2 linked regions of the Homo sapiens genome follow. The protein of the gene in region 2 binds, or shares a complex with, the protein of the main gene of each other region. Each region holds a gene or a part of one and is shown on either strand. Other genes may lie near its edges. The genes, in order: RAB3GAP2 and RAB3GAP1.

Region 1 (16,242 bases), on a different chromosome or scaffold from region 2:
ATACTCCAGCCTGGGTGACAGAGCAAGACTCTCTCTCTCTCTCAAAGTAAAAGAAAAAAAAAATTACAGGGTATAAGAAAAATAAATAATATTACTTCTATTAAATATGGTGATTAAAATTTTCTTTGATCATTTTTAGAAAGTTTTCATGGACATTCTGTGATATCCTAAAAGACAATAGTTAAAAAAAAAAAGAAGACTGACACTTCTGGGTGACATTCACAAGGAAGAACAGCATCCAGCAACCAAAAAAACCTTACCAACAACAGCTGAGGGCTAAGACCAGCCGACTCCAAAGTGTGACACATATCCTCAGTGGAGCTTTCTCCATGCAAACACTTCCAAAAAAAGAAACTACCTGGTAGAAGAAAAACAAAGCACATTAATCAATGACTACTTACCATTTGGACTAACAATCTTATTGAATCACAATCTGGAATTCCAGAGAAACAAAACATTATGAAGGAAGAGAAATTAATTGTTCAATTTGCTTGATTTATTAAAGCAGAAAGCAAATCATGATCCAATATTGTCTCTTTAGTATACTCATTAATACAACCTGTTGACCAGAGTATCTTTTGTTGGCCAAAAAATACAGTACATTAAATCCTTTCATTATTTAAATTTCAAAACAAATGGAATCTCTGAGATGCTATATGTTCCTACCATGTTTTCTTCTAAAAGAAGAGGCATACAAAGACCAGTGTATTATTTTACCTACCTAAAGCCACATATTCCTCTTCACTTATTTTCTTTATGTTGAGCACATCCTTTTCATATTCTAAATATTCCAAGAATGTTTTTACAGGCAACACACCATCTTTATCATCAGAAAATCGAACATTTGTCCTGGTGTTCTCTTGCTTATATTTCTCTAGTAATGCCTGGAGCTTAAGCAGTTCTTTTTCATCAAGCCTTAGTAACAGAGCCAAGTCCTTTAAAACAGAAAACAAAACAAAACAACATTCCACATCTATCACCCACATTATCTGAACTGAAATTCAAGGCTGTAAGCAAAAGTCGACTTTTTAATTAATATAATACCTATCATGTATTCTGCTTAAAACTTTACTTACAAATCACGTTTCATGAGTAGGAAGTTATTTAAATAAAGTAAACTATAATTTTGAAACACTGCATGTTTGGTACCAAACCAAACATGGTACTAGAGGTAGGTACTAAAAGAAATGGTATTAAAAGTACCATTTTAGGATATTTCTTGAGGGTACTTTATTATCTTCTAGAATGTTAGCATTTTTTTTTTTTTTTTGAGACAGGGTCTCACTTTGTTACCCAGGCTAGAGTGCCTTGGCACAATCATGGTTCACTGCAGCCTTGACTTCTTGGGCTCAAGCAATCCTCCTGCCTCAGCCACCTGAGTAGCCGGGACCACAAGTGTGCACCACCACATCCAGCTAATTAAAAATTTTTTTTTTTGTAGAGGCAGGGTCCCACTATGTTGCCCAGGCTGCTCTCGAACTCCTGGGCTCAAGTGATCCTCGCACCTCAGCTTCCCAAAGTGTTAAGGTTACAGGTGCAAGCCACTATGCCTTGGCAAATGCTAGAATTTTAATAAACATGTATTACTGTATAATCAGAAAAAAATTTAAAAGGGTGTCAAACGCAACTCTTACTATTCTGAGGAAACTAAATATTGAACTTAAATGCTTAATTATAAAGCAGCGTAAACACTATAAAATAAAAACATAGAAAAATATTCTCATTGTATCTACATATAAGTCCTGTATGTGGCTCTCAGGGATACAACCTGCTAGGCTTTCAAACTATTTTTATATACTATATGTACAAAAACATATCATGGCTGGGCATAGTGGCTTATGCCTATAATCTCAGCACTTGTATAAATAATATAAATATAGCAGCAAAGCACAGAGAGCTAGCAGGGGGCTTGGTAAGGAAAATATACCTTTAAAGCTTTAAAAAAAATTCTTAATTTTCTACTTCTTTACTACTAATTTTAAAAAGTAAAACTAATCAAAGAGATTATTTTATATAATATAAAATGTGGGATTACTCACATTATCAGAGAATGGTGTGTCTAAATGAAAATCAAGGGAATTTAATTGACTGACAGACTCATAGAGTTGCAGCAGTTTTAGTTTATTGGCACAAAACTGTAGCAATCCTTCATCAACAGACTCAAGTTCTAAAAGGCAGAAGGAAAAGTATATATAAGAGATATATTTAACAGACTCATAAACAGGCTTTGCTTTCATTAAATCTCTCAATATTATGTAATTCCCTGATGCTCTGATGTATTAAATACTGAGATGCTTAAGCTATACCAGGTTTTGAAAGCAAAAATAATTTTTCTGTCATGACAAAATGTCTAACTTTTTAAATAAAATAAGATGCTCTAAAAGTAGGGAGATAAAAAAGGAAGCGGAAATATCTTCATCTAATACTTAAAATTTAAAGAAATTATCTGGAAATACCTTTGAAAATATTTTCCCTGACTACATAATTCATATACTGTATGAATATTTATATCTAATATAAAAGAAATATTTATTCTTTAAAAAGGGAGACACTGATAATCCCCTCAAAATCTTATTTGAAATACAGTATCATGGAATATTGTTCAAGTTCTTATAGCCATAATAAAACTGACCACACAAAATGATTAAAGTTTTTAGGAATCTTATGTTTATGTAGAACTTGAAACTGATGATTTTATGGAATTCCAACAATGGTGTTTGGTTTACTACCAGGCCAGTGGAAGATAACTTTTCATTTAATAAATTTTGGGATGTTGTGAATGCCTTGAGGGGTGGGAGGGCTTTGTAAGTATACCACGCTTTTTAAAAGAGGGATTTATTTCTGACAAGTGGTGTATGCTAAAGGAGTTCACTATTTGCCAATGTCAGTTTTATGTATCTGTTAAAAAAAAAAGGTTGAAAAAGAGTCTCAAAATTAGCATGTTTGAAGTCCTGAAAGAACAAATTATAATTTGTGTATTAAGCCACTTTAAGCTGTCTTACACACAACTAAAACACAAAGCTGGTTTTACATAATTAATATGACAAACAAAAGTCACAACTAGATGACATCAGTCCACTGCACACAATTTAACTGATGTTAGGAATTCAGAATAAAGTGAATTTTTACTAGTTCAGTTGGATGGAATATGGTGTTACAACCCCACAGTTTCAAGTTTCAAGTGTAATCCTTTTTCAGACAAATACATTTTGACGGACTGATGGATTTTAAAGAACAATGTGATAGTACAGACAAATTTTGAATATCAAAAAATGACCAGAAAATTCAGAAATAATAATCTGATTGTTGATTGTGATTCTGGAAGTCCTTAACTCTGTTCACGAGGGAAACTGATACACTGATAGAACATTAATACAAAGCTATATCAGAATAACCACTTATCATTCTATCCTGACATCTTTCCTCACAATTAAAAACAACTTCCCAATAACAGTCAATACATTCAAAGACAGCTTAGATGAAGATCAACTACATATATTAAATAGGGAATAAATAAGATTCTTAATTTCTTATATCTATATTACTTCCACATTAAAGTAACATGATGGTATCACAAAGTCAATAGCTTTCTATAATCAGAGTTACAAAATTTGAGTTAAGAACATAACCTCCAATCAGTACAAACCCTATTACCTTGACTTTTTAAAGTGTCCATTAAAGTCTGAGTGATGTTTCTAAGGCAAGAAAATGGTAAACGTTCACTTGCCAAAATGCTTTCCAAAGCCTAGGAGAAAGATATTGAACAGTTCTAGTAATTATAAGGCAGTGATTTTGTTTTTTAAATCTTATATTTATGCCCAAACTTTCACTACCCCAAATTTCAAAGGGAAGCTCTATATTTAAGATGTTTTAGTGTACATATATTAAATCTCAAGTTGCGTTGTTAAGTAATATACAATCAACTTCATGTCATGCCAAATATGACATAAATGACAAAAATCCAGGCTGAGAATAAAACAACTAGAAGGCAACTGCTACTTAACAGAATAGCCAAATCAAAACAGAAACAAAGATAAAGCTATTTACCAATAAGAAGAGTTTGAATATGCCTATACTATATAGGCATAAACGAAAAGCAGAGGTTATTGTCATGTCAATAACAAAAGCTGCCAAAAACTTAGTTATACCTTAATTATTGCATTTGTGCATGGCAGGCAGAATCTATAGGCCCTGCTAGATGAATACAGTACCCACCCTTCCCTACCTCCCTCTCCCCACCCCCATAGATATTTAAGATTCTTCATAACCAGTCCCAAAATATCTCTTCATGCCTAAAGTAGCAACTATCAGAAGTTAAAGGTCATATTTATCCTTTCATATTAGCACATTAAGTTGGGTTTTAATTAATGAGATTAAATAGTTCAAAAAGTAGGCTGAGAATGTGGGATAAGACAAATATCCGATCATAACACAATAACCTCTGCGTGTTTGTGGAGGAGAAATGGGCTTAGAGGGTGGCTCAAGATGTTGGTCAGGCCTATAATGAAGTAACTACCAGGAAACAATAAAGAAAGTGACTGTAAGAGGCCAGAACCCAGGACAAGCATAACCTGCTCCAGTTCTGCCTATGATTACCCAGGCTAGCAGCTAGCTTGTTTTCTTCCCCATTATTCAACAGTCTCCCAAAGCCTGAACTGGTTTCTTCCTTCCCTTTAGTCAGTCCTAGAAGACCTATAACTTTTGTTACTGGGTTTTCTAGCATTCTTTATAAAATTCACAGCTTCATACATGATTCAGAAGTACCATTAAAAAAAAGAAAATCAAGAAGACATTTTGCATTATGCTGGTTTCCCAATTTTGTTGTTCTATGATTTAGGATAAGAAGAAAGATGGCATAAAAATGAGAAGAACCGTGTGGGTTATGACCCTTTCTACTACAGATTTCTCAATATGCCTCTCTAGATGCCCACTTTGTCATCATCATGTCATCTCTAATAACAGAGACTTTACCCTGAGCAAAATGAGAGCCAATTAGCATTGTCAGTAGAATGGAAGACACAATTAAAAGTCACAAAGGCTTTTCTGTTCTACAATAACTCAATAAAGTGTTTTAAAAACGGACTGCAACAGAAATCACTATTCACTAAATTCTCCCATGTATCACTATTCACTGAATTCTCCCATGTATGTAGCTATAAAATAATAAGAAATATACATATTGGTCTATGGCCCCAGTACCTGACACAGAGTTCCTATAATTTCTTGAACAATGGGGGTGCTAGGAGTTTCTTTTGTTCTAGTGTTTGGTCTCTGTCCTAGTTCATCAGTCAGAGCTCTTAATCCCTTTGTAGACAGAGGTGCTAGGAGAACCTTTTGTTCTAACATTTGGTCTTTGACCCCCCATTTCTGATGGGGAGCTTCTAAGACCTCTGTAATTTCCTGGGTGATAGAAGCTTCTTTTTTTCTAATGAGGCCACTCATGGCAGGCTCCTGGAGAGCTTCAGAATAAGGGGGTGGTTACCAGTGGAACCAACCATGTATTTGAGGATTGAAACTTTTAGCCCAACCCCTGACCTCTGGGGAGCCAAGAGGAGCTGGAAGACTGAGTTGATCACCAATGGCCAATGATGTAATCAATCATGCTTATATAATGAAGCTTCCATCAACACCCAAAAGGACAAGGGTTGGAAGAGCTTCTGGATAGCTGAACGTGTAGAGGTTCCTGAATAGTGGCTTGCCAGGAGAGGGAATGGAAGCTCTGCAACCCTTCCCATATGATTTACTCTATGCACCTCTTCCACTTGGCTGTTGATCTCTACCCTCTGTAATATCCTTTATAATAAATGGGTAAACGTTCAAGTAAAACGTTTCCCTGAGTTCTGTGAGCTGGTCTAGCAAATTCATCAACCGCAAAGAGGGGGTCATAGTAACCCTAATTTATAGCTAGACAGTCAGAAATATAGCTGACAACCAACTACTTGTGACTGGTACCTGAAGTAGGTAGAAGTCTTGTGGGACTGAGCTCTTAACCTGTCGTGATGATCTCATGCTATCTCCAGGTAGATGGTGTCAGAATCGAACTGAATTAGAGAATAACCAGCTGGTGTTAGCTGGAGAATCTGCCAAAGAAATTGACTGGTGTGTGGGAAAAAAAAAAAAAACCCTACATCTAGTGGCAGAAGTGTCGAGTGACTGTGTAAGAGAAAAGAAAAAACCTGTGATACAGTTTTTTCTTACATTTTCACAGTAGCATTATTTTAGATGCTGTGAATTATAAAAATCAAGTATTTGGTAAGGTTCCTACTTGAAGGAGCTTAAAAGACCTAAAGAAAAAAAAGTCGGGGAAGCTATGATTAACATACATGAAATAATTAGAAAATAAGTAGTCATTAACTATCCAGTTTTGATTGAAAGTAGAGTAGGAGTTCAGAGTTATCCATGGGGATCGAAGCATTATGTAAGAATTTGTGGAGTTAGGACTTGAATAGCATTATGAGGGGTTTGGATAGGAGGAGTGGGAGTAAAAGAAATCACCAGTGGTGACCATATTATAACCACGAGCCTGGCAAAAAGTAAAGGTCTGGCAATACCATGGAATATTGAGGCTGTGGAGTAACAGGGACTCATACAGAACAGGTGGGAATATAAATTAGTACAACTATTTTGGGAAACAATTTGCCATCAACTAGTACAGTTGAAGAAGCTCACACCCTAGCAATTCCACTCTTAGGTATAAACGCCAGAGAGACTCTTGCATATGTGAATGAGGAAATATGTACATGGATAAGCATAGCATCATTTGTAATGTCAAAAATCTGGAAACAACCTAACCGTTCACTGACAGGAGTGTAAATAAATTCTAGTCAGTGAGCAGAATTTGTATGGCATAGTAAATGAATCAATTATAACTATAACTACATACACCAATATGAATGACACAGAAACATAATCCTGAAGGAAAAACTAAAGTCACAGAAGACATAGGGCATGACTGCATTTATATAAAGTTTGAAAAGGCAGGAAATGCATCAACAGGTTTCAAAGGAGCCACACAGGAATGACGTAACTATAAAGTAAAGAAAAAGAAAGAACCACAAAATTCTAAATTACAGTTACCTTAGGGATGGGAGAAGGGAATGGGACTGAGGGGGGACACTCAGGGCTCTTTAGAGTTCCTGGTAAGATTTTATTTCCTAAGGTAGGTGGTCATACACACATATTTACTATTTTATATATATAATATATATAATGTAGGGATGTGTAGGTATGTGTATATAAAACACACTCAGATGTATGGCAACCCAGGCTGGAGTACAATGGTGCAATCTCAGCTCACTGCAACCTCCGCCTCCCAGGTTCAAATGATTCTCCTGCCTCAGCTCCTGAGTAGCTGGGATTACAGGCGCCCGCCAATACTGACCCAACTAATTTTTTTGTATTTTTAGTAGAGACGGGGTTTCACCATGTTGGCCAGGCTGGTCTCGAACTACTGACCTCATGATCCCCCTGCCTCGGCCTCCCAAAGTGCTAGGATTACAGTTACAGGCATGAATATTAATTTTTTTTTTTTTTTTTAAAGAGACAACAGGAACTTCTATCTGAAAATAAAGAAAGGGATAAACAATAAAAATGTGAAAAGAAGACTTCAGCCTCTCATGTTTGGGGGAAATAGGAAAATAAAGATTTTCTTAAGAAGGATGTATTATAGCTACTAGCAGGAAAGTTCGTGTATTATATACACTTACTTGTTTTTTGGTTGCAGGGTATTTAATATCAAGAATTAATTCCTTTATTTCTGTTTCAACCAAATCTATAAAGAAAAAAATAATCAAAGTAAAATTTTAATTTTTATAACAGTGAAACATTATTCTGAAAGAAAATGAACATATCTGTACTATCAGTGAGTCTAAAGGATTTTTGGGTTCTCTCACATTAATGTTTTCTTGTTATGAATTATAACACCCTCTAGATGGCACACTTCAGCCTTACAGAGCAATTCCAATAAGCTCATCCATGCATTATTTTGATTGCTCCATTCAGAATATTTTATTGATTTAAAAGATGATAGAACAATATGCTTTATTATTTGTATGAGAGAATACCTACCAAGATTGGGAGATTTTGTTTTCAGTAAGGCTGCTAGTTTCTTCACTAGGTGCATATCCTTGGCTCGTTCACTCTTCTTATCACTAAACCAATAAATATAACAAATTATTACAGAATGTGAAATTATTTTCTTTCTAATTCTGACACACTCCAACTTTTTTTTCCTTTATATATTTCCTATTTAACTTTAAAGATATCAGTCTAAAGACAAAGGAAACAACAAAATAGCAACTACAAAAGAGAGTACAACAAACCTAGGAACTAGGAAAAGTTAGCAGAGGAGCGTCAATCAGCAACACTGGACACACCTTACCTCAGTGCTAAATGGAAGGGAACGTTCACTGTTTTCACACTTCCAGACACTGGATCAACCAGACAGATCTGATAAGTCTGTGGCTGCCAACTCTGACTGGTAACATTATTTAAACCCATTATTTTATAGCCAGGATACAGCAGCCTAAAGAAATCACATACCAATATGGTAAAAATATTAGAACAAGGAGAAATGCCAAAAGGTGCTTTTATTATAGCTAGGAAACCCAACATTATTATCAATTTAGGAGCATTAATAAGGCAACTAAATACTGATAGCAAGTACATAAGTAAAGCAGGGCTCAACCAGCAGAGTTCTGCCTTGTTGAAAGATTCTAAAAAATTAAATGAACACAATCAGGCCCCTGTTTCAATGGCAAACAAAGCATTCACCTCACTTATGACTAGGGCAAAAGGAACCTTTCCTTTTGAGCCTTCCCAGCATAAGTAAGGGACAAACATTAGCAACAAGCTAACTTTAATTCAGCAGTCTATCATGGCATTTTTAATTTTTTTTTTTTGTTATTAAATACTTAAGTACATGCCAGGCACTCACAGGAAAAACCACAATAAAGAATATTGTAATTCTCAAACTTGTAATCTAATAAGCAGCTTTAGTAAAGCTTTATTTTAATAAAAGCATTCCTATATTTCATTTTGTAACCAGCACAATGCCAGCATTTGCAGCTTACCTGCAGTGCTTCCCCACATTGAAAGCTCCTACTCTAGGTCCCTGCTGTGTGCTCCACACTTCTAAAATTCCCCTTCTTGGCGCATAGATCACAAGGAATTGAGCTACTCGACTTGGACCCTGAGAATTTCCAAAGGGGGAAAAATCTGCCTTTTCTGGCACTCTTTCATGGAGGTCCTCTACAGTTTGAATCCATCCAATTTGTGCGTCGCGGTACCCTTAGAGACAGAGGTAAAGGGAAGTTAATTACTTAATCTAGGTTCCATAGTAGCCTCCTGAAGTACTCTGGAATAGTGGGGGTGGGGGTGGGGGTGGGGTAAGAAAAGCTATAAAAGTATATTTTTTATTATGGAATATCTTAAATAAAAAATGATAATAAATAATAACCAGTCTATCACCCAGCCTTATCAAATCTTACTATTTTGCTATATTTACTTCTGACCACTTTTTCTCTTTAAAAAGAAAATATTGGCTGGGCACAGTGGGTCATGCCTGTAATTCCAGCACTTTGGGAAGCTGAGGCGGGTGGATCACCTGAGGTCAGGAGTTCGAGACCAGCCTGACCAACGTGGTAAGACCCTGTCTCTACTAAATACAAAAAATTAGCTAGGCATGGCGGCGCATGCCTGTAATCCCAGCTACTTGGGAGGCTGAGGCAGGAGAATCAGTTGAACCCAGGAGGTGGAGGTTGCAGTGAGCCCAGATCGCACCATTGAACTCCAGCCTGGGCAACAAGAGCGAAACTCTCTAAAAAAAAAAAAAAGAGAAAAGATTATAGATATAATTGAAGCCACCTGATTACCCCTCCTGCTCTCATTCCCTTCCCTTCCCACACAAGCCTTTTGGTGACATGCAGATAGAAAATATGGGTTACAGGACGATGGGAGGAAGCTCTTGCATGGGAGACGTAGCTGATGCTATTTTCCATTTTAGGGTGGTCCCTCACATAGGCAATTGATCCTTCTTTCCAAGGACACAATGGAAAGAAAAACTGGCTGTACTAGCTGCAGACAGGCAATGATGCAAGGAATAAGATTGCCATAGTGGATTTGGAGCAGTCAGTACAGCTTCGTCTTCGTATTTTAGAAAAGTCTTGCTGAGAACATACCTTTGATATTGTTTCAGAAGACAAACACCAAGGAGAAATGATGTATCTGCAGTATTAAAACTATTTCTACAGATACTGAGACATGTAGTAGGTAAAGACTGCCTCTGTCTATCACTGCAGGAGTTCTTTGGCAAGAAGGTGATAGTGGCTTCAATCTGGTCCAGAGTAATTGAATGACCTCAATCCATTCATTATTCCTCACATTTTACAGGATAGACAAGATTGCACCATAAATTGTGGTCTATGCTGACATGTTACTATTCCAGATGATTCTAAATAATGTAATCATCCCTTCTTTCTTAGTCAGGGAGATATTATTCACAATGTGCCTAGTTAAAAGATATTTTCAAGTCTCCCTTATAGTTAGATGAGGCCATGTCACTAAGTCCTGGCTAATGTAGATAATGGTTGAAGGGACTTCGGGGAATATCTTCAAAGTAGATTGACTCAGTTGCCAGGAGAAGCCTTCTTCCTTTCTGCTTCCTTCCCGGAATGCAGATAAGAGGGCTGTCTATGAGAACCTTGAGTGGGGAAGCTACAAGGAAGAAGACTGGGTTCCTGAAGATACTGTGGTCTGTTACTCAGGTCTGTTAATAATAGCTGAAGGAAACTCCTAAGTGACATACTTATTGACACACCAGGTGGATTGACCCAAGCATATGGATATAAAAGTCAAGTCAGTGAAGATGGGTTTTGCTATCTTAAATCTGAAAGACTTGGCATTATAGATTTGGGGAGAACATTTGGCTCAAGAATGGCTTTGTGAAGGGGAATAAATGTAGCAGGGGCAAGAAACTGAACTCAGAAATTGACAATAACAGTGAGAATTGAAAGAAAGTGCAAAAGGCAAAGGTTAAACATGGCTATGAGGTGATCAAACCTAAAAGATGTATCAACTGACTACTGGACCAAGTGGTTGCTGATCTGAGTTCATGTCAAAAAAAGAAAATGTAAACATGAAGAATTAAACAGAGTTATCATCCAGAAGCTGAAGGATGATAACATTGCTCAACTATTGGGGTAAAAAGTGAATTAATTGTTTTTCTGGATTTTTGTAAGAAGTACCTTTCCACATGCGTATTGCAATTCCTCTAGCTACATCCAATAAAATAACTCTGCCGAAATCATCTGTTACTGCTGCCAGTGTGTTACATGGAGACAGACATATGCTTTCACCATGGCGTCTAGAATCTGGAAGTCCAAATCTGATATTTAAAAGAAAATAAAATGCTCAAATCACATTCCAGTTCAGAAACATATAACAGAATAACGAAATGCATAAATGAAATAGGCTGAATCTGTTTTTATATAAAGAAATATGAATTTTACCTGGATTAATAGTTAATTTATTAATCACAACTGACATTTGTAATATAAAATACATAAAAGAAATAAAACCACAGTCCTATGTAGGTTTTCAATAGATACCCACAACCCTATACCTTTAGAGAATATAAAGTATAACTATATTTGATTAAAAGGCATGTCACAGAAAACAATGTCCTCACCATCAACTAAATTTTAGAATATGCTCCCACACAGGCATCTTTTGTCTATTTTAAATTCTTCTTCTTAATCTTTCTCTTTTTTGCAAGATATGACATCCTGCTGACACCAATCTGCCTGAAGCAAAAACCTTCCTTTTTCTAAATAGTTATCTCTAAACTTCTGTTGTTCTATAATCAACCTCATTAGAATTGTGAGTAAAATAAAAGTAAAGAAGTACTAAAAGAGAACTAGGAAAGCTCATTTAGAGAAAAGTCCCTGAAACAAAGGTGCCCAACCTTTGTTACATCTATTAGAGACGCACAGGGCCATGTGACTAATTTATTGACTCTTGATATTAGGAAATGTGATATGTTACAATGTATTTTTTAAAAAGATGAAAAAAAACTTAGAAGCTATACTTCGATAAATTTTAATAATTAGTTGGCTCTTCTTAGGTGAAGAACATCCATAAAGAGGAGGTGTTCTATTTCCCTTCATGGTGGTACTTTATATTAGGTAATAAAAAATGATTTTAAAACAAAACCAAACATTAGAAAACATGCTCCTATCTAAAAAATAATAATGAAAAAAAAAAGCAACAAAAATCATGCTCCCTCCACCAAAAAAAACTCACCAATATACTAACACATTCTAAAGCACTACTGAAGTAAACAAGGAAGCACAGGACAGGAGTCTGTTTAAAGAGTGCCTGAATACAGGACTCCTGCTTTTACTTTTTTTTTTTGAGATGGAGTTTTTCGCTCTTGTCCCCCACTCTGGAGTGCAACAGTGCAATATCGGCTCACTGCAACCTCTGCCTCCCGGGTTTGAGCAATTCTCCTGCCTCAGCCACCGGAGTAGCTGGGATTACAGGCACATGCCATCATGCCTGACTAATTTTTGTATTTTTAGTAGAGACAAGGTTTCACCATGTTGAGCAGGCTGGTGTCAAACTCCTGACCTCAAGTGATCCGCCTACCTAGGCCTCCCAAAGTGCTAGGATTACAGGCGTGAGCCACCGCAATCCACTAGGATGACTTTTTTAAAAAGAAATCACTAAGTACTTTTAAAGTTTATACAACTTAGTAACAAACTATCTAAACTTTTAAAAGAAATTTAACAGCTATCACTGAATTAATTCTCCTACAACTAAGCTAAGTTTATTTGTTAAAAAGCACACTCAAGAAATACATCTTGAATACCTAGTATATAACAGGGATAAAGCTGTGAACAAAACAGGTAAGAATCACTCTTCACATGGAGTTTTACATTCTAGTGGGAAAAGAAATTCCACTGTAATGGCTTTCAGAAGTTCCAAAGACAAGATCAGCAAATCAACCAAGCACACGGAAAGACCATACATTTAACAGTACCTTTCTAAAAGGACTAAAATTTGGGAAGCATGACAGACTTGCCTTACAGCTAATGGGGTAGCTGGCTCAACCTTCGGCTTTTGCTTTTGGACAGCTTCTTCTTCGTGCTTACTTTTCCAACCAAGCCAACCACTGAAAAGAAAGAAAACTTAGAATATAAAACTGAGCTTCCAGGGTTTTAAAGTGCAAACTATCAAAATATAAGTTAAAAGCAAGCTAGATACAAATGAGATATTTGTTATTTTAATTGTTAAGTAATTACCTGGCAGCATTAAATAAAGCAGAAGTGAGTTTACTTGCAACTGCTAGTGCAACATGGGATAATAATGGTTGTGTGCTTCCCTGAAAAACAGAACATTTGAAAGAGAAAACTTAGTAGCTTACAAAGAAACAAACATACTTTCTAAATAAAGCTTACTTTAAAATGCTTTGAAAAGTTGTAAAGGCTGGACTAGCAACTCAGCTTCTTTCAGAGTACAGTAAAAAGTTTATTTTAGGCGTAATATGAGAAAAAGTTTTAACTCTATAGTTTAAAAATAAAATCACAATTAGTCTATTTTACCATTAGAATTTCTCTCTTTAAATTGTAATTTCATTCAAATAAATTTTAAACTAGGACATTAAGATTACATTATTCTAGCTGGACTATGGATTTCACACCTACACATAACTGGCTCCTTTCTCTCTTTAAATATATATATATGCACACACATATACACACACACATTTTTATAAAAGTAAAAAGATATTTTGGACAATTCTGAGAAGCATGCTTTTTAAGTGAGAAACAAGAGCTGCCAAATCTAACACTCAACTTTCCACTATTTTAGGAAGCAATTTTCACCACTTATAACAAGTATAGTTGGCAGCTTGTTCTGTCTTTACAACTCCTCATTTACTCAAATCCCTAGTGGGCTGGCATCATTAACAAGCCTGAGCTCCTGACTATTGCACCAATATTTAAAGACATCTCAGCTATCAAAGAACTCAGGGCTTCAGAAACAAAGAATTTCCTTTTATACTGATGGTAGTACCTTTTCAGTTAATCTAAAGAATTTAGAAGAAAGCTAGTTGAGATTAATTTTAGTTTCAATTGAAATTTAGAAATGTAAACTGCTTAATCTTCTAAGGCTAAGCAAGTTACCATATCCAATTTGTAGACAAATTGTAAAATCAAGAGCAGCCTTACTCATGATCATTGATAAAACTCATACCTCTAAAGCATAGAAGAAGCCAGTAAATGGATTGGACCCTACAGTGATATACTGAGACATGGCAGGTGGACTATTTTTAATTGCTGCATTAAATCCACCTATATTGGAGGCAGTCTTCATTTGATCAAAGGGGGACAGAGTCATAATACCTAATAAAAAAAAAAAAGTGATTTGAATGTACAATGTTATTGCGGTCATTACATTTTTACTTCAGTTCCATTCTAAGATGCTAAATGTTTAGTTTTATTTAATAACCAAAAGTCATTTTAAAAGCTACAAAGTCAACATCAGAAAATATTCTGCCAGGCATGGTGGCTCACTCCTATAATCCCAGCACTCCGGAGGCCAAGGCAGTTGGATCACTTGAGGTCAAGAGTTTGAAATCAGCCTGGCCAACATGGTGAAACCCCGCCTCTACTAAATATACAAAAATTAGCCATGCATGGTGGTGGGTGCCTGTAATCTTAGCTACTTGGGAGGCTGGGGCAGGAGAATTGCTTGAACCTGGGAGGTGGAGGTTGCAGTAAGCTGAGGTCACACCAACTGCACTCCAGCCTGGGCAACAGGGCGAGACCCCATCTCAAAAAAATAATAATAATAAATATTAAAATTTCCATCTATAATTTCCATAATCTATAGAATATCATAAAAACAAAATTTAATTTTTTGAACAGATATGAAACTCAGAGGTACCAGAAGTATACAGTCCACTTATATCCCCAAATACCAATTCACTTCTTTTTTTTTTAGTTTTTGAGATGGCGTCTCACCCTGTCGCCCAGGCTGGAGTGCAATGGTGCAATCTCAGCTCACTGCAACCTCTGCCTCCCAGGTTCAAGCGATTCTCTTGCCTCAGCCTCCCCGAATGGCTGGGATTACAGACGCGCACCACCATGCCCAGCTAATTTTTGTATTTTTAGTAGAGACGAAGTTTTGCCATGTTGGCCAGGCTGGTCTCAAACTCCTGACCTCAGGTGATCCTCCAGCCTCAGCCTCCCAAAGTGTTGGGATTACCGGTGTGAGCCACTGTGCCCAGCCAATATAGGCGTGTGCTGCTGTGCCTGACCTTACTAAATTTCATATACATATATTTCAGGCCTCCCCTTTGCCTGAAAACTGTCAAAAAATGCATTCGTCCTTAAGACGTGTCCTAGGAAAGGAAATTCTTTGAGTGAGTTCATACGCAAGCCATTCACTGGCTTTATAGGAATTAAAGTGATCAAACAAATCCTTGGACTATTTTTTAAACTCCCCTCCCACCTCCTAGACCATTATAAAAGATCAGAACACCTATCTCATAGTCATGAATGAATCCATGATTCAGTATACAAAATGTTTTCACTACATTACAAAATTTGCTTAAGTTTTGCCTGACTCCACCAAAACACGATCAAAGGGCAAACTATATGGCACATAAATTGAAATTTAAGTTTTAAAACAGCTTCTTTTTAAACTCCCATGCAATATACATGGGAGTATAAATTACTACACAGTAATCCAGAGGACAATTTTGCAATAGATATGCAATTTTTTTAAAGGATTCTAATTTATTGTAAGGAAATGGCTGATCAATCCTTTCCATCCTTGCTACCAATGATGTTTTCCTTCCTATAACTTAAATCATCTATTTTCAATGTCACACTTTAGATCCTGTCATCAGCAACTGTAGATTCTTTGTATTTTTGATTTCAAGCTTACCACACTTAGACCACCACCTCCTAGCTTTCCATCTCAATTACTCCAGAAACTCCCTGCAGTAATTTCACAATTTCGAGTTTAAACTAATTAATCCTACTATTTTTTCCACTATTTATCAAGTACCTCTTGGGATCACTTCCCTTTCCATCCAGCTTAGCTTTGTGTTCCATCATCATCACTTTCTTGCAAATATCCACAACCTCCCTACACTCGTTTCCCCCTACACACATACTCCTCTGGCTAAATCTTAATCTTGGTTGACCTAAACTTTCTGCATTCTCTGCTCTTGAA
Region 2 (16,242 bases):
AGAGATAATATACCAAATGCCAATTTTAAAAATTAAAACTGCAATATCATTATAGATTCTATAATCACTAAAAAGATTATAAAAGAATACTATGAAATAATTTATGCCAGTAAATATAAAATTTAGAAAAATAAAAAATTACTTGAAAAACACTATTTGCCAAAGTTGATACAAGAAATAAAAAATAAGAATAGTTTTTTATCTATTAAAGAAATCTAATTTAAAAGTAAGTCTATATTTGAAAATATTTCTACAAACAAAACTTCAGATTCTGAGTGGTTTCACTGGTGAATATGTTCAACATTTGAAGAAGAAGTAAAATCTTATTTATACAAATTTGTCCAGAGAAGAGAAAAAGAGGGGACACTTCCCTGACAAGGACAACATAATAAAGGTCAATACCTCTGACATATGAATATAAAAATCCTAAAAAAAAAAAAAATAAACTCCAGCTGTATAAAAAGGGAAAGCCCAAGTGGGATATATACCAGGAATGTAAGGATGTTTTAATACTCAAAAATCAATCAATGCAATTAACCACATTAATGGAATAAGGGAGAATAAAATAGGATTACCTTAATATACAGGAAAACATTTGATAAAATGCAATACCTGTTCATGATTAAAAAAAAAACAAAAAACAAAACTCTAAGCAAACTAGGAATGGAACTTCCTTAATATGATAAGTGATATCTACATCAGGTGCCTTCAATGACTATCATATGCTTTCTTTCTGAGGTTGGGAACAAGAGAATAATGTCCAGTATTCAACACTGTACTGGAGGTCCTAGCCACTGCAATAAGATAAGAAAAGTAATTCAAAAGCATAAAGATTGCAAAATCAGAATTCAAATCATCTTTACTAAAAGACGACATGATTGTGTATGTAGAAAACTCCAAATAATCTCTAAACTACTAATAAGTCAATGTAGCAAGATTGTTATATCCAAGGTCAATATATAAAAATCAACTGTTTATATCTATCAAGGGAAAAAAATTGGAAAATGAACTTTTAAAATACCATTTATAAAACCATTTAAGAAATTACAAATACCTTGGAAATATATCTAATGAAAGATATGTAAGACCTCTACATTGAAAACTAAAACACTAATGAGATAAATGAACAGAAACTTTAAATAAAATTGAAGATATTTAATGGACTCAATATTAAGATGTCAATTCTCCATAAATTGATCTACAAATTCAATGCAATCTGAATTAAAATCCCAGCAAGATTTTGAATATGTGTTTGTTTATAAAAATTAACAAGCTGATTCTCAAATTGATATAACAATGCAAAGGACCTAGAATAGCTAAGATAATGTTGAAGAGTAACAAAGTTAGAAGATTTACACTACCAGATAGACTTATTATAAAGCTACAATAATGATGACAGTACATTACTGGCACACGACAGAGACCAACGGAACAGAATAAATAGTCCAGAAATAGACCAAAACACATACAGTTGCTTGATTTACATCAAAGATATCACTGCCACTCAATGGGAAAAGGCAGATCTTTTCAACAGTGGTGGTGGAACAATTCAATCTCCCTATAGAGAAAAGAGAATCTTAACCTGTTCCTCTTACCAAACAATTAATTTGAGGTGGGTCACAAACAAATGATATAGGTAAAACAATAAAGCTTCCAAAAGAAAAGAAAATATCTTCAGTACTTGGTAAAGAGTTCTTAAGCAGAACACAAAAAGCACTAACCACATAAGAAAAACAAGGATAGATGAGACTGTATTAAAATTAAGAACACCTCTTCAACCCAAGGCATCATTAAGAAAGTGAACAGGCCAGGCGCGGTGGCTCACACCTATAATCCCAGCACTTTGGGAGGCCCAGACAGGCAGATCACGAGGTCAGGAGTTCGAGACCAGCCTGGCCAACATAGTGAAACCCCATCTCTACTAAAAATACAAAAAATTAGCCAGGTATGGTGGCACACTCCTGTAGTCCCAGCTACTCGGGAGGCTGAGGCAGGAGAATCGCTTGAACCCGGAAGACTCAGGCTGCAGTGAGCCGAGACCACACCACTGCACTCCAGCCTGGATGACAGAGTGAGACTGTCTCAAAAAAAAAAAAAAAAGAAGTAAGTGAATAGATAAGCAACAAAATATTTGCAATACAAGTATCTAAGGACTCATATCCAGAATATATGAAGAATTCCTATAAAGTAATAAGAAAAAAAAAGACAACTGCTTTAAGAAAAAAATAGGCAAAGGCCTTGAACAGGCTTTTCACCAAGAAGATAGACAAATGGGCAATAAATATATATATGCTTCAGGAAAATGTAAAACCACAAGATCCTACCTCCTACCCTTCAGAAAGGCAAAAATTAAAATGACCAAAAATATCAAGTGTGCAGAAAAGAGTTAATATTGCAGGTCTGAGACTGCCATTCTTAGAAAGGCCTGCTTGAAAGTTGGCCCTTGGCTGGCAGCTGAGAACCTGGATTTTGAGAAGGTTCCCACCATTCCCAGAACTGATAAAAATGACTCACTATGCCTAAACACTTTGTGCAAATAATATGGTTTATGCTAAACACCTACTTTCTTTATGGGAGTCTAGATTTTGGTATGGTTAACCCTATGCCTAAGCAAAGGATGCCTACTTGACCAGCCCCTACTGATAACTCCCACTGCTGTGCCTCTAACAAGCTTCCCAGGGAAGACAACATTTCACACATGTGGTCACAATTTGTTGCAACAGGAATTAAGTGCACTCTGTGTAACTACAGTAGGGGAAGCTTTTTGGAAGCTTAAACCTCATCTCTTTCAAACTTCATCCCATGTGCCTTTTCTCTTTGCTGATCTTCTTGTAATAAATTATAGCCACGAGCATGATTATGGGCTAAGTCTTATGAGTCTTCCTAGAAAATCACTAAACCTGGGAGTGGTCTTGAGAACACATCAAATGGGGAGGATTCTGTAGAATAACTATACTACTATAAATTGTTGGTGAGAAGGTTAACTAGTTCAACCACTTAGACAGACTATTTAGATAGATCTACTAAAGCCAAAACATATTTGCACCATATAGCCCAATAACTCTACTCTTAGGAATATATCCAAAAGAAAATGAGTGCCTTTGTCTACCAAAAGAAACAAGAATGTTCACAGCAGCTTTATTCATATTAGCCCAAAGTGAAAACAACCCAAATACCCATCAACGGGTGAATGGATAAACAAATTGTGACAAATTCATAGAATAGAATACTAATAACACATGCACAAACACTGAAGCCTGCAACAACAAGGATGACTCTCAAAATCGGTAAATAAAAAAGCTCAATGGTATATAATGTATGATTATACAACGAAAGAGTACACAATGTATGATTACATTTATATACAAAAGAGTAAGCAAAGCATGCCATTTAAAAGGTTCAAAAACTGACAAAGCTAACCTATGGTGACAAAAGTTAAGAGAAAGAGTTGCTGGAGGGGAATCCTGGGCTTCACTATCCAATACATCTGGCTATTTAATTTAAATAAATTAAAATTAAAAATTTAATTCCTTAGAAACATTAGCCACATTTCAAGCACTCAGTAGTTACATTTGGATAATGGCTATTGTATTGAATGGGAAAGACAGAGAATGTAGAGAATTTCCATCTTCACAGAAAGTTTTATTTATCAGCACTGTTCTAGGATGATGGGAATTTTCTGTATCTTGATCTGGGAAGTAGTTATATGCATGTATCAATATGAAAAAATTCACCAAGCAGTATACTAAAGATTTGTGCACTTTTTATTTTTTTTTTTTTTAATTTTTGAGACAGGGTCTTGCTCTGTTGCCCAGGCTGGAGTGCAATGGTGCAATCATAGTTCACTGCAACCTCTGCCTCCCGGACCCAAGCCATCCTCCCACCTGAGCCTCCCAAGTAGCTGGGTCTACAGCCATACACCACCACGCTCGGCTAATTTCTGTATTTTTTGTAGAGACGGGGTTTTGTCATGTTCCTCAGGCTGGTCTTGAACTTTTGAGCTTAAGCAATCTGCCCACCTTGGCCTCCCAAAGTGCTGGGATTACAGGCATGAGCTACCATGCCCAGCCAAGATCTGTACACTTTATTGTATTAAGTTATAACTCAATAATTAAGTAAATACATGAACATATGTTTTTAAAATGACTAGCAGAAAACATATACAATATATATAACTGTAGATTCACATCTAAAATATGAAGAATTCATATGAATCAATAAGAACAGGGGAGCAACCTAAAAGAAAAATCATAGGCGATTCACAGGAAAGGACGGCTAACGAACATATTAAAAGATGCTCAGGTTCATGAAAATTCAGAAAAATACAATCTAAAACACTGAGATACTACTTTTGACCATCATGTTAACAAAAATTTATATGGTTGGTAATACCAATTGTTTATAAGAAATTGAGGCTGGGCACAGTGGCTCATGCCTATAATCCCAGCACTTTGGGAGGCCGAAACAGAGGATTGCTTGAGGTCAGGAGTTTAGGACCAGCTTGGGCAACATAGCAAGACTCCATCTTTACAAAAATTTTAAAAGTGAAAAAATCAGCCTGGCATGGTGGTGAGCACTTGTAGTCCCAGCTACCTAGGAGGCTAAGGTCAGAGGATCACTTGAGCCCAGCAAGTCAAGGCTGCAGTGAGCCATGATCATGCCACTGCATTCCAGCCTATGCAACAGAATGAGATCCTGTCTCCAAAAAAAAAAAAAAATCCATAAAACCATGTATTAATATGTACACACATATATGTATTATACATCAATGCAGAGAAACAGTTATAAGAAATATAACCCAAACCAATAATACTTGTTAGTTACTTCAAGGAATGCAAGTCAAAATTAGTGGATGGTGGCTTTCACTTTTTATTTTTTTGAGACAGGGTCTTGCTCTGTTGCCCAGGCTGGAGAACAGTGACACAATCATAGCTCACTGCAGCCTTAACCTCCCGGGCTCAATTGATTCTTCTACCTCAGCCTCCCGAGTAGCTGGGACTACAGGTGTACGCTACCCCAGTCGGCTAATTTTTTTTTTTTTTTTTTTGGTAGAAATAGGGTTTACCATGTTGCCCAGGCTGGTCTTGAATTCCTGGGCTCAAGCAATCCAACCCCACCTCGGCCTCCCAAAGTGTTGGGATTACAGGCGTTGAGCCTCTTTCATTTTTACTAGATTACAATTTTCACAATAGAATGTTTTCAGGCCGGGTGCAGTGGATCATGTCTGTAATCCTAGCACTTTGGGAGGCTGAGGCAGGCAGATGGCTTGAGTTCAGGAATTTAAGACAAGCCTGGACAACAGGGCAAAACCCCACCTCTATAAAAACCACGAAAAATTAGCCAGGCATGGTGGCATGCACCTGTAGTTCCAGCTACTTGAGAAGCTGCGGTGGGAGGATCACTTGATCCCAGGAGGTCAAGGCTGCAGTAAGCTACAGTCATGCCACTGCACTCCCACCTGGGTGACAAAGAGAGACTCTGTGTCAAAAAAAAAACAACAAAAAAAAAACAAAACAAAACCCTTAAAAACAACTATTGCTGCTGTTGTTGTTGAGTTATTGCTGTTCTACATCCTAATGGTGTATATGACTTCAAACTATTTTTGAACAGATAAAAGCTAATCATATAATTGAAGGATATTTACTTTTGTTCTCTCTATATATTTTTGGATTTTTTCTTTTTCTTTAAGTCAATAAATTTTTGTTCAAGTAATTCCATGTTGTGATTTCTTCCACTGTCCATCAAGGTCACTTCAGATCCTCTAAAGAGCTGGAGTCAAAAGATTTATCTTCAAGTTAGCCCTTTTTAATGAAACTGATGCTTATTTTAATCCAGCTGTCCTGTTAGCCCATAATTCTTTTATTTTGGCTTCTGTCATCTCCTTTTAATATGGATATACTGATGAAGACTTCAAAATTCACCAAGAATCTTTGGGATCTAACTTCTTCAACCAATTTACTTTAGGGTCCTTTTTACTGTAGGTGGTGGATCTGCCTGGTTCTCAATTTGACACCCTAAGCGATCATACTCAAGAATAGTACAGATGTGTGGAATACGCCAATACCTTTAACTACAGACATCATGTTCTCAAGATAAAAGCCTTTAAAACAAAAAGCCATCGTAGGTATCAAGTCAACATGAAATTGGAATGCAAAATTAATACTGCTGAGGATTTCCTTCATATCCCATGCTGTTTAACTATCTCTTCCACAGTCCTAGAATCAATCTTTTTTAATTAAGAGACAGGGTCTGTCTTTGTTACCCAGGCTGGAGTACAGTGGTGTCATCAAAGCTCAGTGCAGCCTCCAACTCCTGGGCTCAATACTCTTGCCTCAGCCTCCTCTTCCTGAGTAGCTGCAACTACAGACACATGCCCCAATACTCAGCTAATTTTTAAATTTTTGTGGAGATGAGGTGTTTGTTACTTTCTTATACAGGCTGGTCTTGAACTCCTGGCTTCAAGCAATACTCCCACCTTGGTGTGGGGCTTGCAGGCTTGAGCCATTGTGCCTGGTCTGGGACCAACCTTTATGGCTATCAATATTCCCATCAGTTAACTGTCTCAGGTATCATAATATCCCTTCTTATATGTATCAAAACTCATACTGAACAATGAGTTCTGGGTTGCAAAAGAGGATTTATTTTTTGCACCTATCCATAAGTCTTTGTCCACAAGTTAAACAAAAACATACATAAGTGCAGTTGGATTTTCTTTTTTAAACATCTGAGCATTCACTGCTCAGTTTATAAATCACCTTATATATGATGACGTGATCTACTTAAACTTCAAAACATTTCTCAATTACAGAAATGGCAAACCTAAAAGCCCCAAAAGTTTATTTAGATTTCTTTAATCTTTAAACATAGACTTTGTCCAATCTTTTAAAGGTCCTTGATTAAATCAAGACCACATTTATCTATGTCATTGGGAAATCCTTACCTTTAGTTTCTTTAAACAGTCTATATCTTTATCTTTAAACATAAACACTTTTTTTTTCTTTTGAGACAAGAGTCTTGCTCTGTTGCCCAGGCTGGAGTGCAGTGGTGCAATCTCGGCTCACTGCAACCTCCCACTGCTGGGTTCAAATGATTCTCCTGCCTCAGCCTCCCCAGTAGCTGGAACTACAGGTGTGCGCCACTGTGCCCAGCTAATTTTTGTACTTTTAGTAGAGACAGGGTTTCACCATGTTGGCCAGACTTATCTTGAACTCCTGACCTCAGGTGATCTGCCCACCTCAGCCTCCCAAAGTGCTGGGATTACAGGCGTAAGCCACCGCATCTGGCCTAAACATAGACTTTTTGGATAATTTTCCTTACTCAAAGCACTATCTTCTACTAGGATGAAGTTATATAAACCACAAAATAAATTAAAATGGAAAGAACTAGTGCATCCTACCTGGGTTACTGGAATGTAGAGAGGTTCTCCATTATGCAGCAGTGTAAGTTTCCCATGCTGATAGAGCCGTCCTTCCGGCCTTAAATTTGCCATCTCCTTAGGTCCTCCTTTCTTGCCACTCTCTTGTCCATTTCCTTTAAGTTCTTCAGTATCACTTAGGCATTCAAAAAATTCTTCTTCGCTGTCACTCCAGGAATCCCAAGATTTTCCTACCTCTCCCTTTTCCTTATCTGTTTCTTTTAGATTATCTGGCACCAACTGGTCTCCTGCTTTTCCAGCATCCCCTGGATATATATTAGTGACATCTGAAGCACTTGTCTTTTTCCCCTCATCACGTGCCTTCTTTCTTTCAATACAACAATTTAACATCTTAAGAAAAGAGAAATAACATTTATAGTTGAATTAGTTACAGAAAAATAAAAATCTACCTACTGCTTGAATATTTAATTTTCACTCTCCACTTCTCAGGACCTTGTGAATTGCAGTGACTACTGACTATAGGCAACCTACAGCAGCACCATGAGAACAGCATGTAACCCATTATTACATTTAGTATTAGAATAATCTGATTAAATCAAGACCACATTTATCCATGTCATTGAGAAATCTTTACCTGTAGTTTCTGATGCAGTAAACAACACCTCAGATCTGGGGGTCCACTTGCTAATCTATCAAATAAAGTAAGGAGAAAAGAAAGCTTAGTTTTAGTAAAATTGCTTCAGATATGATTATTTTCTATACTACCATAATTTTTAGCTATATTGATAAGAAATCAAAACTAGATTTCCACAGGTAAGGTAAGTGAATTCCAGAGGGGGAGCACATAGAATTAAAAGATGAAAATTTATTTTATACTCCTTGTCCACAAATCACCAATAGCAAATATAATAGATATTTCAAAACATAACAGCAAATTAGTGATAGTTTTCAGGCTAACAAAAACTCAAAATGAGAAAAAGCCCCTGAACCCACTCCAGGAAGTACTAGCATACAGTATTTCACACCATACAAAATAAATCAGTTTGTGTATTCAGTACTAAATTCTTACAGTGGATTCTCACTATAAAAACCAAGATCTCCACCTGTATTTCAATAGGACCTTGGACTGTCTCTAGTTCTAGGTTCCTCTAGACTACTAGGTTCCCAGCAATCAGCCAGAGGCACTCCCTCATATTCAACATGCTTCTGGGTCTGTAAAATGTTCCAGAGCGGACTGTCTAAAACCAAGAGAGAATCCAGCTAAGCAGAGATTGGCAAATGATATAAATGTTTTTGGATCAGTAATCATTTTATATTGCTCAAAATCATGATTCTCCTATCATAGCATGGGTAGATGAGCACTAAACTATGCAATATCAACCTATGTGCTAATGAAAATGTTCTGTTTGATTAAGTAAAATGTCAATTACAAAAAACAGGTTTATTACAAAAGACTTTGAAAATGCATAAAAGTATAAAGAACAAAATAAAAGTATAATTTCACACTGGGAAAAACTGATAGCATTTCACAGTATTTATAATATTTTTCCTGTACAAATATAGCAACATAATTAAAAGTACTTTGTATATGCATTAAAATATTCTACTTTATTAGAAACAATATGAACATCTGTTATTAAAGATTATTGGGGGAAAAACTGTAATCAATCTAATTTTCTATTGTAGAGATACAGTATAATTTATTTAACTATTCTTTTATGTTTGATATTTAGGTTTTGCCTTTTTTTCTATTATATTAATAAATTTGCTGCAGTGAACACCTCTGAACATAAATCATGTCTAAGCTTCTTGCCACTTTCTTAGGGCAGACTTCCTAGAAGGGGGAAAAAATAGGTCAAAAGTCAAATGTCTGCTAACAAACAAAATCGTATCCAAACAATTGAAAATTGAAATTATTACCCTGGAATCAGAAAGTTGTTTTCCCATCGGAAACGCATTTCAAGAACAAATTCCTGCCAGAGGTGTGCCACTCCTTTCAACCCTCCATGGTAAAAATTGATCATACAGAGACACAAAGCCAGTTTGTATGTTAAACTGTCAGATGGTGCAGACTTGAACTGATTGTAGAGATTCTAAATTTAACAAAATAGAAACAAAGCAAACTTGTTACCAAAATATTTTACACATATAACTGAAAAGGTCGTAGGGAGAGATTTTAATTGTAAAATTAACCTATCCCACCTAAACTAGGCATTATCAAATGTCTAATACACTACTGCATAAACTATTCTTAGGAAGTCCCACATTTTCAAGATTTCTACTAAGATTAAAAAAGATAAAGCTATAGTTTAATGAAGCTAAAGTTACAGCTTTCAATTTCTTCTGTGGAATATTTAGGAAGTATTCCAAATTTCATGTGTTGTTTTAAAAATCTTTTAATTACAAAAATGAGCACGTCTGAAAAAACAAAAATCATAACTATCTAAACTGAAAATGTAAAAAGCCTTTGCTTTTTTCTCTCACCTCATCAAATCTACTTCTCAACAATAACTACTGTAAAGGTTGATATATATCTACACTTGTCATTTAAATTCTTCAACTTCTTAATTTTTCAAAGACTAGACAAAGAGACCATGAAAATTTTACCTAATTTTACACATTTTACTTCATTAAAGAGTTGTCCATTCACTAACTAGTTTTAAAATATCAAAAAGAATCTGCTGAGAAACACAAATTTAATGATTTCACCAAAACTCTACAATGAGGGAAATCCTACAGCTGTGTAGAGTATATTTGTGCTATTTTTTCATTGTTTCCAGAAAAATTCTTGCTACCCAAAATATGTATCTGTGCTAGTTATCTAAGTGGAAACCACGATCTGCCATCCAAAATTCCCAAGGTGATTTTTAAAATAAAAATATAGTAAGCTATTAAACTAGAAATATATAGAACCTCTAGAAATTCAGTGCATTTAAAACATTTTAACATTGAACTCCACATCAACTTACATAGTCTTCACTCTCTGATGGAGGATTATTATTATCTGTTGAAGTAGTTCCATCTAATGGTTTCTCAGAAACAGCATCAGGGAATAAGAACTTGAAGGAAAGGAAAAAAATAATCACATTTTAGACCACATTTCCTATTTTGTTGATTTTTATAACTCATATAGACATTATTTAACTTTTTAATGGTTTTGCTGCTCTAACAATAGAAATGTTCCAGTTGTATTGGCCAGTTTGTTCTACACTCTCAAATTTTTTCTATTTTTCTTTGAAAATATACAAGGTTTCAGTGACTAGCCAATTTTAGAAATTAGAATTTTTTTCTTAAAAGTAATCACTTGATTCTGTAAGCTGAAAGGTGCAAAAGCAAAATCTCATCACTGTGACTTCATGCTCACCCAAGGCCATTACATTTTTTTAGTGTTACTACTATCTAAAAAACAAAACCACAAAAGACAATTTAAAAACACTCATGTACTCATGAGGATCTGAAGAGTTACATCATCCACAGGCTTTCATATATAGACTACTAAGAGATGATATTCAAGACCCACAGCTTTATTTTATGATACCCCTGGAAAGTAGGAAGCAGTCTAAACCTATAATAACCAATGTACCTTTTCCATGTGGTTTCTGTTTATATGTACATGTACGAGTGGTCAAAAAAAAATCCAGTGTACATGACAACTGAGCTACATGATTTGAATAACATTCTTTTAAGAATACAGTCTTAAGAAGGAGGCTCTCTATAGACATTTATTTACAGTCCTTTTATCACTGTTCCTCTCAATTGTTTTGTGGTACTGCTGATTAGTAATCCCTCTTACTATGTATACTTTGCCACACATTATAGAACATGTCCAATAGACTTTTAAAAATTAGATGAACTACTATGTGCCAAGTGCCATAAGGCACAATTACCAGCATTATCCTATTCTCATACAACTGTTTGAGCTAAGTATCACTACCTACATCTTACGATGTACAAGCTAAAAAGTTGGCTAAGAGTTTTGTTCAGATAAATGGCAGGGGATAAGATTAACATTAAGTTTCCAGTTTTCTTTTCAACACTTTTCTTGAAGGTTTTTCCCAAGATTGTCTTAATGCACAAATTTCCGGGAGTATGATTTTAACCACAATTACAGTTAAGAATAGCTATCATTTATCAAAGACCCATATATGCCAGGCAGTGTCACAGAAGATCCTTTAATCCTCACAACAATCTCGCAAGGTTTTGTTAGCCATATTTTCTAGATGAGGAAACTGAAGTGACTTATTCAAAGTCATGCAGTAAGTCATGCAGACATTAAACCATGGTGTGGATGGCCCCCAGGCTGGGGCCATTCCACTCTGTTATACCTAGGAGCCACCTTAGCTCTCTATTCATCTCCCTCTCATTCTCACTAAAAGCTTTCTCTCAACTGTTGTCAAAGCAATCCTTCAAAAATATACTTCCGGGGCCAGGTGCGGTGGCTCACGCCTGTAATCCCAGCAGTTTGGGAGGCCGAGGCGGGCGGATTACGAGGTCAGGAGATCGAGACCATCCTGGCTAACACGGTGAAACCCTATCTCTACTAAAAAAAAATACAAAAAAATTAGCCAGGCATGGTGGCACGTGACTGTAGTCCCAGCTACTAGGGAGGCTGAGGCAGGAGAATTGCTTGAACCCAGGAGGTGGAGGTTGCAGTGAGCCGAGATGCACCACTGCACTCCAGTCTGGGTGACAGAGCGAGACTTCGTCTCAAAAAAAATAAATAAATAAAATAAAAAATAAAAAAATTCTAATCATGTTGATCTTCTACTTAAACTGCAAGATAAAAGCCAGTGCTTCAGCATGGCAGGTTACCTGCTACTTCTCCAGCCTCAACCCTGGTCATGGTCTGGGAAGCACCCTACAAAATATCAACCGTTCAACATGCTCTCGAACCTCTGCTATTCCTCTGCTTCTAAAGCCTTCTTTTCATCAAGATTCAGCTCAAATGTCCCTCTTCATGAAGCCTTCCCTGATTCCCACTGCCCAGACAGAGACAAATGCACCCCTGCTGTGCTCTCACAGCCCCCTTGCCAGATTTCTCACATGCAACATGGTATCACAACTACTATTTACTTTCCTTCTCACCACTAAACTAGTAGGAATTTTCTAAATGTGGTAACTGTTTTACTCATTGTATATTCCAAGGTCACTGCCTACCACATAAAAGGAACTGGCTATATAATGAATAAATGATTCTGCATATAGACCTATAAAGACAGAACATTTAGTTACCAGGAGAATAGTATTAAGAACATCATTATTTAGCGGTGACTCCTCTACACCTCTGTGTTTTCGGATTTTCTTCTTTGCAGTGTGTACCATATTTGAAACTGATAATTTATGAATTGGAACTGATGCCGGCTCTGTCAATTTTGACAAAGCATGAGTTATATCAGCAGTTTCTATAAAAAGAACAGAAATAAATATAAATTATATCACCAACCTCAGCAGGTGAAAGTGATGAACAAATTGATGATTATATAGAATATTTTACTCATTCTTTTTACTAGTGTTACATGGTCTTGGAATTATAAAATATTAATATACATGTTCAGCTTTATGTGCAAGCATGAGTGACAATGGTGTCACACAAATTATTTCTCCCTAGGAGACTTCAAAATTTAACCTCTAAAACTCTGCTTTTCAAAATATTTTACATTTTTGGTGGAAAGAACTTATTAAATGCCTTTAATGTCTTAACAAGCACTGGGTACAGCCTGGAAAGGAACTGTAGCTGTCTAGTCCATCAAAACTTGATTATCCAACTTAATTCAAAATGAGAAAACAGATGAAAAGTTGCTGAAAAATGTGCCAAGGAAAAACAGTAAGACATTTGAAAGTAATGTTAAAAAAAAATGTAGGTTACCTTTGCCTTCTTCCTCAAATGCAGATCGTCCAAGAATCTCATCAGTTGACTCCTTTCGACGGCAAATTTTAAAAAATTCAGTGACAAAATCACCTATGTAGGAAAAAAAGTTATTTTTGACACTTAACTGAAAAAAAAAAAAATCAGTCCTATAAATTAAAGTACATCTTTCCACAAAAGCTATTAACTAAGATATGGTAGAAAGTAAAACCATTCAGTTTTTCCATTGAAAAAAACAAAAATTAATCCTATATCAAAGGTAGCCTTGTTCTTTTCTTTCTCTCCATGTCCCAGGATATTTAAAAAGCTTTTCCTTAGAATTCCATCTAGAAGGAAAGAAAAAAATAACTGTACCTAATAGTACTTACTATATGCCTCAATGAGACACAGTATCCATTTGTCATTAAGTTATGTAAGTAACAAGAACTTACTCTAAGTATGTAGTAATCTTTCCCCAACTGCTACACTACTAGAATCTAAATCCATTAATAAAATTAAGAAGAAACGCTAAAGACATGTTTCTAGAAGATTAGGAAATCATGTAGGATAAAGATATTTCAGTTTCTGCTACATATTAATGGTATTCTTTCCGTCATTATTACTATTATTTTTTATTTATTTTATTTTTTTTTTTTTGAGACAGAGTCTCGCTCTGTCGCCCAGGCTGGAGTGCAGTGGCGCAATCTCGGCTCACTGCAAGCTCCACCTCCCAGGTTCACGCCATTCTCCTGCCTCAGCCTCCCAAGTAGCTGGGACTACAGGCACCCACAACCACGCCTGGCTAATTTTTTGTATTTTTAGTAGAGACGGGGTTTCACTGTGTTAGCCAGGATGGTCTCGATCTCCTGACCTCATGGTCCGCCCGCCTCTGCCTCCCAAAGTGCTGGGATTACAAGTGTGAGTCACCGCGCCCGGCCCATTATTACTATTATTTTTGAGACAGGGTCTTACTCTGTCGCCCAAGCTGGAGTGCAGTGGCACGATCATGGCTCACTGCAGCCTTGACCTCCTAGGCTCAGGTGATCCTCCCACCTCAGCCTCCTGGGTAGGCTGGGACTACATGTGTGCATCACCATGCCCAGCTAATTTTTGTATTTTTTGTAGAGACGAGGTTTTGCCATGTTGCCAAGGCTGGACTCAAACTCCCGGGCTCAAGCAATCCACCTGCCTCGACCTCTCAAAATGCTGGGATTATAGGCATGAGCCATTGCACCCAGCTGTCTGTCATATTATAAACAGAGGTAAAGCGATTTGAATCTTCTGAACAGCTACAATGTTTACACAAATAAATGAATGCTTAACAAATACTATCAGTACTAAGATACATCAAGTACATCTAAATTTTATAATTCACCAACTAATTCTGAATTAACCCATAACTTTTTTGAGGCTTCTTCAGAAAGGTAGGAAAAGTCTATAATCTAGTCATACAAAATATTAAAAGAGGTAGGGTAAGATCATGGAACGTTAAACTAAAATGAGAATACTTTCAATTCTAAGGTCCTCAGCAATTACCATACAGTAACAAGATGAGGAATAATAATGTTACTAAGAAGCAACTTAGTACGTAAACATAATATGTAGTAATTCAACGATTAAACAACAGAAACCATTTACTGTTCATTTACTATAACAAAGGCACTGTTAAAAGTGATATATACACATACATACAGGTACATAATCTCATTTGATCCTCCCAATAACCCTATGAAGTAAGTACTAGTGTTATCTCTATTTTATTTATGAGGACTCTGGGGCTTAAAAAGATTAAGAAACTTGACCAACCTGGTGAATCCAGGATTTGAACTGAGGTCTGTCCAACTGTAATACTCTTGACATTGACCCTATACTGTTGCCCTAACACCCTAGACAAATTCACCAATGGTGGACTTATACCTTATACATCTTTGTATTCACTATTATATAGTTAGCACAAATGGCAGCTACTAATCAGCATTTGACAAATAGCATATGAATGATAAAGAGCCCAAGAAAACAATGCTTTAGAGAAATGCATCATTACTGTCATAATAAATCTTTGGTAACTCCATCAGTTAAATGGTAATATATCAAGTGATAGAGAGTTAAGGTAGCATGGATGAACATAAAGAAAAGGAGAAAATATTTTCATGTGTACTAAATATAAGGAGGAAAAAGATGACAAGGCACACTGAGGAGATGGGTTCAAAAGACTTCATGGAAGAGATACACCTAAAAAAAGGGAAGGGGACGAATCCCAGACATAAGACACAATAATATTATCTGAATAGCAATTAATATTTTTCAAAGTACTTCCATTTGTGTTATTTCACTTGATCCCTCAAATAACCTTGTGAGGTGTATAAGATTATTCACATTTCTTTTCCCATATCAGAAAATAGGCTGCAGATGTGACACAACTCTATAGAAGGGCTCTAAAGCGCACCGTCAAAAACAGTGCTCTTCAGGTCGGGTGCGGCGGCTCACGTCTGTAATCCCAGCACCTTGGGAGGCCGAGGCGGGCGGATCATGAGGTCAGGAGATCGAGACCATCCTGGCTAACACGGTGAAACCCCGTCTCTACTAAAAACACAAAAAATTAAAGGGCGTGGTGGCGGGCGCCTATAGTCCCAGCTACTCCGGAGGCTGAAGCAGGAGAATGGCGTGAACCCGGGAGGCGGAGCTTACAGTGAGCCGAGATCGCGCCACTGCACTCCAGCCTGGGCGACAGGGTGAGACTCCCTCTCAAAACAAACAAACAAACAAACAAACAAACAAAACAGTGCTCTTCAGATAACACACGTCTAGAGGGGCAACAAAAGGCAAAAAGGGCTTCAATAACAGAAATAGAAGATGCAGACTATGCCACAGGAGGAAGGAAAGGGAGTAACATAAAAGCATCCGGAAAAAAAAAAAAAAAAGAAAAAGCATCTTAAGGCCGCGCGGTGGCTCATGCCTGTAATCTCAGCACTTTGGGAGGCCGAGGCGGGCGGATCACGAGGTCAGGAGATCAAGACTATCC

Evidence for each region.
Region 1: the proteins of RAB3GAP1 (region 2) and RAB3GAP2 are in contact, whole or in part, in a cryo-EM structure (PDB 8VYB), measured with the Homo sapiens proteins. Residues at the interface, in NP_036365.1 of Homo sapiens: Thr19, Ser21, Trp23, Glu24, Glu142, Ser143, Asn146, Leu147, Leu149, Ser150, Ser153, Ile154, Ile169, His170, Trp173, Arg174, Met176, Arg187, Asp189, Glu191, Met192, Val193, His194, Leu195, Arg196, Pro199, Tyr202, Ile211, Ser214, Lys215; in NP_036546.2 of Homo sapiens: Arg197, His198, Pro199, Gly200, Ser276, Pro277, Phe278, Asp279, Met281, Lys282, Ser285, Asn286, Ile287, Gly289, Phe290, Asn291, Ala292, Ile294, Arg377, Phe378, Gly379, Leu380, Pro381, Asp382, Arg385, Cys395, Thr397, Leu398, Arg407, Arg415.

Annotation. Positions count from the first base shown.
Region 1 is NC_000001.11:220,181,997-220,198,238, forward strand, and holds part of RAB3GAP2 (rab3 GTPase-activating protein non-catalytic subunit), read right to left. Parts: intron 14,403-16,242; coding exon 14,254-14,402; intron 13,382-14,253; coding exon 13,302-13,381; intron 13,172-13,301; coding exon 13,082-13,171; intron 11,384-13,081; coding exon 11,244-11,383; intron 9,289-11,243; coding exon 9,072-9,288; intron 8,525-9,071; coding exon 8,381-8,524; intron 8,151-8,380; coding exon 8,068-8,150; intron 7,772-8,067; coding exon 7,707-7,771; intron 3,746-7,706; coding exon 3,655-3,745; intron 2,168-3,654; coding exon 2,040-2,167; intron 936-2,039; coding exon 722-935; intron 359-721; coding exon 261-358; intron 1-260. UniProt on the Homo sapiens protein: Regulatory subunit of the Rab3 GTPase-activating (Rab3GAP) complex composed of RAB3GAP1 and RAB3GAP2, which has GTPase-activating protein (GAP) activity towards various Rab3 subfamily members (RAB3A, RAB3B, RAB3C and RAB3D), RAB5A and RAB43, and guanine nucleotide exchange factor (GEF) activity towards RAB18.
Region 2 is NC_000002.12:135,127,087-135,143,328, reverse strand, and holds part of RAB3GAP1 (rab3 GTPase-activating protein catalytic subunit), read right to left. Parts: intron 15,728-16,242; exon of another isoform or gene 15,667-15,727; intron 13,335-15,666; coding exon 13,242-13,334; intron 12,778-13,241; coding exon 12,608-12,777; intron 10,435-12,607; coding exon 10,345-10,434; intron 9,469-10,344; coding exon 9,296-9,468; intron 8,065-9,295; coding exon 8,010-8,064; intron 7,766-8,009; coding exon 7,397-7,765; intron 6,702-7,396; exon of another isoform or gene 6,574-6,701; intron 1-6,573. UniProt on the Homo sapiens protein: Catalytic subunit of the Rab3 GTPase-activating (Rab3GAP) complex composed of RAB3GAP1 and RAB3GAP2, which has GTPase-activating protein (GAP) activity towards various Rab3 subfamily members (RAB3A, RAB3B, RAB3C and RAB3D), RAB5A and RAB43, and guanine nucleotide exchange factor (GEF) activity towards RAB18.